Linked DNA regions of Homo sapiens. The protein of the gene in region 2 purifies or fractionates together with the protein of the main gene of each other region. This does not show direct contact. Each region holds a gene or a part of one and is shown on either strand. Other genes may lie near its edges.

What was found.
Region 1: the proteins of PAPOLG (region 2) and HARS1 fractionate together in Homo sapiens (co-fractionation; one large-scale study listed by BioGRID). This does not show direct contact.

Annotation. Positions count from the first base shown.
Region 1 is NC_000005.10:140,677,871-140,681,370, forward strand, and holds part of HARS1 (histidine--tRNA ligase, cytoplasmic), read right to left. Parts: intron 2,014-3,500; coding exon 1,918-2,013; intron 1,258-1,917; coding exon 1,132-1,257; intron 146-1,131; coding exon 38-145; intron 1-37. UniProt on the Homo sapiens protein: Catalyzes the ATP-dependent ligation of histidine to the 3'-end of its cognate tRNA, via the formation of an aminoacyl-adenylate intermediate (His-AMP). Plays a role in axon guidance.
Region 2 is NC_000002.12:60,762,768-60,766,267, forward strand, and holds part of PAPOLG (poly(A) polymerase gamma), read left to right. Parts: intron 1-3,500. UniProt on the Homo sapiens protein: Responsible for the post-transcriptional adenylation of the 3'-terminal of mRNA precursors and several small RNAs including signal recognition particle (SRP) RNA, nuclear 7SK RNA, U2 small nuclear RNA, and ribosomal 5S RNA.

The DNA.
Region 1 (3,500 bases), on a different chromosome or scaffold from region 2:
GGCCCAACTTTGCCCTCCCAGCCTTGTCAGCTCTGACCTTGACCAGGAAGTCGCCTATCTGAAGTGAACTCAGGATCTCGCACATGATCTTCAGGCACTCTGCATCAGGGATCATGGGATCAAAGTTCCCAGCAATGTCAAAATCCTGCAGGGAGAGGGTTAGCCAGCGGTCTTCAGGGATTCACCTTTCTGAAGGGGGGACTCTGGGAGCTCTGTCCTCTAGGAAGGCCTGGTTGCACTCAAGCATAGAATTTCTCTTTCATTTTCTGATCATCAGCCCAGAGGTAAACCCCGGCATCTTTGGGCTTCTCACCAGTTTTGGTTTCCTTTCCATCTACTGGGCTATTCCTTCATTTTCTACTTCATCATCTTCTTAACTCCTCCTACTGGATGGGGTGATTATATGGCTTTAGTGCTTAGCCATTTTCCCTATTCATCCAGAAGCCCTGGCATCAGTCTGGATGATTTGATGTATCAAAGCTAATTTCCTTATTCTCTGCTGTGATCCTATCACTGTGGTTTAAAATAAAGAGCACTGGACCAAGAGTTCTAGTCCTGACTTTGCCTTTCTTATCCCTATGATCTCTTCATGGGCTGGGTATCAAGTTTACTCATATGTAAAATGAAGAGACTTTATTCTCCTCCCCCACCACAGGGATTTTGTGAAATCTGCATGAAAACACCATAGAAGAGGCTGGGTGCGGTGGCTCACGCCTGTAATCCCAGCACTTTGGGAGGCCGAGGCAGGCGGATCATGAGACCAGGAGTTCGAGACCAGCCTGGCCAACATGGTAAAACCCCGTCTCTACTAAAAATACAAAAAATTAGCCGGGCATAGTGGCAGGCGCCTGTAATCCCAGCTACTCAGGTGGCTGAGGCAGAAGAATCGTTTGAACCCAGGAGGCAGAGGTTGCAGTGAGCCAAGACTGCACCACTGCACTCCAGCTTGGGCAACAGAGCGAGACTCCGTCTCAAAAAAACAAAAAACAAACAAAAAAACCACCATAGAAACCCTAAGAGCATTATCTGGGTCATCCAATTTGCTCAGGACACCGTGAGTACTCAATAGATTCTGCTGGCTTGAGAGAGCCCCAAGTAACTCATCCTGCCCCACGGTTTCCCAACACTCACACACTGGTAGAATTCCCGGTATCGGCCACGGGTCATGGCTGGGTTATCCCGCCGATATACCTTTGCTATGTGGTAGCGTTTAATGTTGGTCAGTTTATTCATTGCCAAATACCGAGCAAAAGGAACCTGATGACAAAGAGTTAAGGAGAAAGCCCCTCCTATCACTGTCTGCAAGTTGATTATCATCACCAACAGAAGCTGGGGTCTAACCCCTCCCTATGTGGGTAAAACTGCCACCCATAAGATTAATAGCACTTACAAACATCAGAAAGCATCAGCTGTGCTACCACATGAGGTAGCTGAAGGCTCAAAAAAGATTAAGGCACCTTTCCCTTTTGTAGTGTTGACTGGACTTTTTTGAGCATGGCAAGGGGCTGGGCAGGTTGGCCACAGACCAGAAAAAGGCGACCAGAAAAAGGCCCCCATATGGGATTTCTAAGCAGATGATTCTCTGTGTAGCTTGGAGACAAGGGAAATGTGTTGCTAGTCCATTAAGAAGAATTTTGTTCACTGGACAGGGCAGGGGAGAGGTATTCTGGAGCCAGGGGATGACTGTAGAGTTGGAACTGGGCCCTGACATCAAGCTGAGGTCTCACTCAGGATTCAGAAGATTTCTAAGGATGTGTATGCTCTGTTTAGCCAAAGTTCCACTCCTGGTTTAGAGAAATAATTCCCCTAATCGCCAAAGGCCTCATATTTGATCCTACCTACTCTACCATTCTTAAACCTGAGCCAAGTGAGTGCCAATCCATCCAAAGTCTCAAGAGCCCAAGTTTAGAAAGATACAGTGAGGTCATAGCGAAGGGACAGGAGCTCCCCGCCCTGGTCCTTCAGGTCATAGATAAGCTTGGAGTCTTCCCCATACTTTCCCATCAGTGTTTCCTGGAGAAAACATAAATAAATGTGGTCATAATAATAAACATAACAATTTAAAAGGAAGTTTTGAAAACAAACATGACTGATTCCAACTTGTCTACATTTCCCTCTGCTCTTTATCCCAATTCTTAGGTGTCTGATGTAGTTATCATTAAAAGGAAACACCAATTTTGTGTTTTTTTCTATTTTGATTTTGTAACAGAGCTGAAGTATTTTTCTTACACATTTTCCTCTTAAAAATCTTTTTTTTCTTCAGACTTCTCAGCATGAAGTTTGTTTTTTTTTTTTGAAATGGAGTCTCGCTCTGTCACCAGGCTGGAGTGCAGTGGCGTGATCTCGGCTCACTGCAACCTCTGACTCCGGGGTTCAAGAGATTCTCCTGCCTCAGCCTCCAGAGTGGCTGCGACTACAGGCGGGTGCCACCATGCCCGGCTAAGTTTTGTATTTTTAGTAGAGACAGGGTTTCACCATGTTGGCCAGGATAGTCTCGATCTCTTGACCTCGTGATCTGCCCGCTTCAGCCTCCCAAAGTACTGGGATTACAAGTGCGAGCCACAGCGCCCGGCCTGAAGTGTTTTTAAAAGATGCATAAATTCCAGTGAGAAGAAGCTCTGTACTTACTTCCTCCCTCATGTTATACTGTTAGGTGTTTAGGTTATTCTAATTTAAAAAAAAATTTTTTTAGGCCAGGCATAGCGGCTCACGCCTGTAATCCCAGCACTTTGGGAGGCCAAGGCGGATGGATCACCTGAGGTCAGGAGTTCGTGACCAGCCTGGCCAACATGGTGAAACCCTGTCTCTACTAAAAATACAAAATTAGCTGGGGGAGCTGGTAGGCATCTAATCCCAGCTATTCGGAGGCTTAGGCAGGAGAATCGCTTGAACCCGGGAGGCAGAGGGTGCAGTGAGCAGAGATCGCACCATTGCACTCCAGCCTGGGTGACGAGAGTGAAACTCTGTCTCAAAAAAAAAAAAATTCCCCATAACATTTCAATATCTAATATTTAGGTATATAGCTCTTTTTTTTTTTAAAAAAAAGTATTTTTCTTGATGATAAACTACTAGGAATAGGTTATCAGACCAATAAACATAAATGTTTTTTGATGCCTGAGATTCGAATAATGTCAAAAGTAAAAACTGGGGAATGTCTTAAGGGCATTACAGCAGTCCTTGCCCTGTGATGTCTATCATCGGTAATAGCATATTTCACTTACCAGGTTGGCAAAGATTAAAAAGCCTGAAACTTCCCAGTATGCAGTATCAGAAACAGTAACACACTAGTGTTACGGGCTGAACTGTGTCCCCCTGGCCCCACCCTCCCCAATTCATTTGTTTAAGTCCTAACTCCCAGTAACCTCTGAACATGTCTACATTTGGTGATAGGGTCTTTAAAGAGATGATTAAGCTAACATGAGGTCTCCAAGTTGGGCTCTGATCCAATATGTTGTTGTAAGAAGAGAAAATTTAGATAGGGACAGAGGGAAGACGATGTA
Region 2 (3,500 bases):
AGACGTGTACCACCACACCGGGCTAATTTTTGTATTTTTAGTAGAGACGTGGTTTCATCATGTTGACCAGGCTGGTCTCGAACTCCTGATCTCAGGTGATCCGCCTGCCTCAGCCTCCCACAGTGCTGGGATTACAGCCTCGAGCCACCGCGCCCAGCCTAAATTTTATTCATTATTTTATTTTATTTTTTTTTGGAGACAGAGTCTTGCTCTGTCACCCAGGCTATAGTGCAGTGGCATGATCTCACCTCAGCCTCCCCAAGTGCTGGGATTACAGGCTTGAGCCACCACGCCCAACCATAAATTTTATTTTATTTTTTTTTTATAGACAGGATCTCCCTCTGTCACCCAGGCTGCAGTACAGTGGCACAGTTACATAGCTCACTGCAGTCTCAAACTCCTGGGCTCAAGTGATCCTCCCACCTCAGCCTCCTGAATAGCTGGAACTGTAGGAATGCACAATTGTGCTTGGCTTATTTTGTTTATTATTTTTTGTAGACACAAGAGTATCACTGTATTACCCAGGCTGGTCTCAAACTCCTGGTCTCCAGCAGTCTTCTGACCTCAGCCTCCCAAAGTGCTGGGATTACAGGCATGAGCCACTGCGCCTTGCCTAAAATTTGCTTGATTTTTTATGGCTTTTTCCCCCCAGTATTTTTTATCTGTGTGTGATTGGTTGAATCTGCAGATGTGGAAACTGCAGATACGGAAGGCTAACTATATTTTGAATATAATTGTTTTTGTTTTTGTTTTTGAGATAGAATCTTGCTCTGTCACCCAGGCTGGAGTGCAGTGGCGAGATCTCAGCTCACAGCAGCCTCTACCTCCCAGGTTCAAACGATTCTCCTGTCTTAGCCGCCCAAGTAGCTGGGGCTACAGGTGCACACCACCATGCCCAATTAATTTTTATATTTTTAGTAGAGACGGGGTTTCACCATAATGGTCAGGCTGGTCTCAAACTCCTGACCTCAGGTGATCTACCCGCCTCAGCCTCCCAAATTTCTGGGATTACAGGTGTGAGCCATCACACCTGGCCTTGGTTTTGTTCTTGTTTGAGACATGGTCTCTCTCTGTTGCCCAGGCTGCAGTGCAGTGGCGTAATCTTGACTCACTGCAACCTCCACCCCTGTGTTCAAGCAGTTCTCTTGCCTCAGCCTCCCGAGTAGCTGGGATTACAGGTGCACGCCACCATGCCCAGCTAATTTTTGAATTTTTGGTAGAGATGGGGTTTCACCATGTTGGCCAGGCTGGTCTCGAACTCCTGACCTCAAGTAATCCATTCTCTTCGGCCTCCCAGAGTGCTGGGATTACAGGCATGAGCCACCATGCCCTGCCTCACAATTGAATTTTTATTATTGTCTGAGAATCACCACTGCGAAGGTTATTTTACTGGCTGTACCAGAATGAGGGAGAGAATGTTCAACTGGGTGATACCATTTGCCTCATCACTAGGTAGCCCATACTGTTATATTTTAAGGTTTTTGTTTTTCATAGTTTTCCTATCTTTGCCTTAACAGCAGTCAGTTGAAAGCCCACTGTTTAAAAGAAAGCCCACTGTTTAAAACTCACAGTTGTCAGTGTGTCTAGCTGTAAAGTCCCTTTCTGCCCCTTAATCTGCATGGATTTAGAAATTAGGTAAACAACTGCAGATTTTTTTTTTTTTTTTGGCGATGGGCTCTTACTCTGTCACCCGGGCTGGAATGCAGTGGCGCGATCTCAGCTCACTGCAACCTCCGCCTCCCAGGCTCCAGCAGTCCTCCCAACCTCCCCACCTCAGCCTCCCTAGTAGCTGGGACCACAGGCATGCACCACCACACCTGGCTAATTTTTGTATTTTTGATAGAGACGGGGTTTTGCCATGTTGGCCAGGCTGATCTCGAACTCCTGAGTTCAAGCAATCCAACTGCCTTGGCCTCCCAAAGTGCTAGGATTATAGGCATGAGCCACCACACCCGGTCTAGAATTCTTTCTTTTACAGCTTTTATTATTTTTTTCTGTAGCTATGATGAATATGTAGAATTGGTTCTTTTAAACAGTGGGCTCAGAATAAAGTTGAGTCTCCTAAAGACTACAGTCGTTGAGTTTAACATGGTATTTATGCTATTTACTTTTGTTGCCAAAAGGCTGTCTGCCTCATTTCTGAACTCACCAGGGTTATCAATAGTTGAAGTTATTGGATGAGTCAAATTCTGAGCAGATGGAAATGCTAGTGACAGGTAGTCAAAAAAAATAAAGTTAGTTAACATCTTCCATTGAGCAGATGAGGTCATTTTTCTTTGTGAATTGTAATTGTCTCTTTTGTGTGGGGGAATGGGGGAAGGATCTCTCAGTCTGTCTCCCAAGCTGGAGTGCAGTGGCATGCATAATCATGGCTCACTACAGCCTCAAACTCCTAGGCTCAAGCAATCCTCTCACCCCAGCCCCCCAAGTAGCAGAGGCTACAGGTACACATCCTGATGCCTAGCTACTTTTTTTTTTTTTTTTTTTTTTGGTAGAGATGGGGTCTTGCCATGTTGCCCAGGCTGTCCTCAAACTCTTGTACTCAAGTGATCCTCCTGCTTTGGCTTCCCATAGTGTTGAGATTACAGGCATGAGTCACAACCACACCCAGCCTATAATTCTCTTTTTTTTTTTTTTTGATTTTAAAAAAAAAAGTGACGAGGTCTCACTGTGTTGCCAGGCTGATCTTGAACTCTTGAGCTCAAGTGAACCTCCCACCTCAGCCTCCCGAAGTGTTAGGATTATAGGCATGAGCCACCACTCACAGCCTGTAATTCTCTTTATGTATATTTTACTTTGGAAAGTAACTGAAGGATTTGGGTTTAATCAAAGATGATTTGAATCTGTACACAATTGGGATATTTAAACTTTAAATAGTGTAGAATCCCACATCAAATCATTTTGGTTAGATACTATGGCTGTGGCAAACTGATTTAGCATATCACTTTCTCATAAATCATGCGAGAATCAGACTTCTCAAAATAGAAATGTGAACTAAAAGATTTTTTTAAGGTCCTGTCTTCTCTGTCCATTTCATTCATGTTAATCATCAATAAATTTACAGATTCCTGGGCATGGTGGTGCATGCCTGTAGTCCCAGCTACTCAGGAGGCTGAAGCAGGAAGATCTTGAGCCTAAGAGTTCAAGGCCAGCCTGGGCAACATAACAAGACTCTGTCTCTTTAAAAAATCTGATTAATTTACTAACTTCTTTCTAGCTATAAAATTATTTGTGATACTCTTAACCTTAATATTCATTACACAGAAGCATTAACAAGGATAATATCCTATTATATAGATACTTACATTCAAGTTGAAGTTAATCAGCAGATATTCTTTAGAACTTGTACTGGGCATTGTGAGAAAATACAGAGAAGCAGTAGACACAGTTCTTAACTCTGAGAAATGTAAATATGATTGAAGATTAAATATGAAATATGATTTTACATGCCAAAGAAGTCAGTAAATATAGCAAAAAAGAATTTAAGAATTGTAATGGCA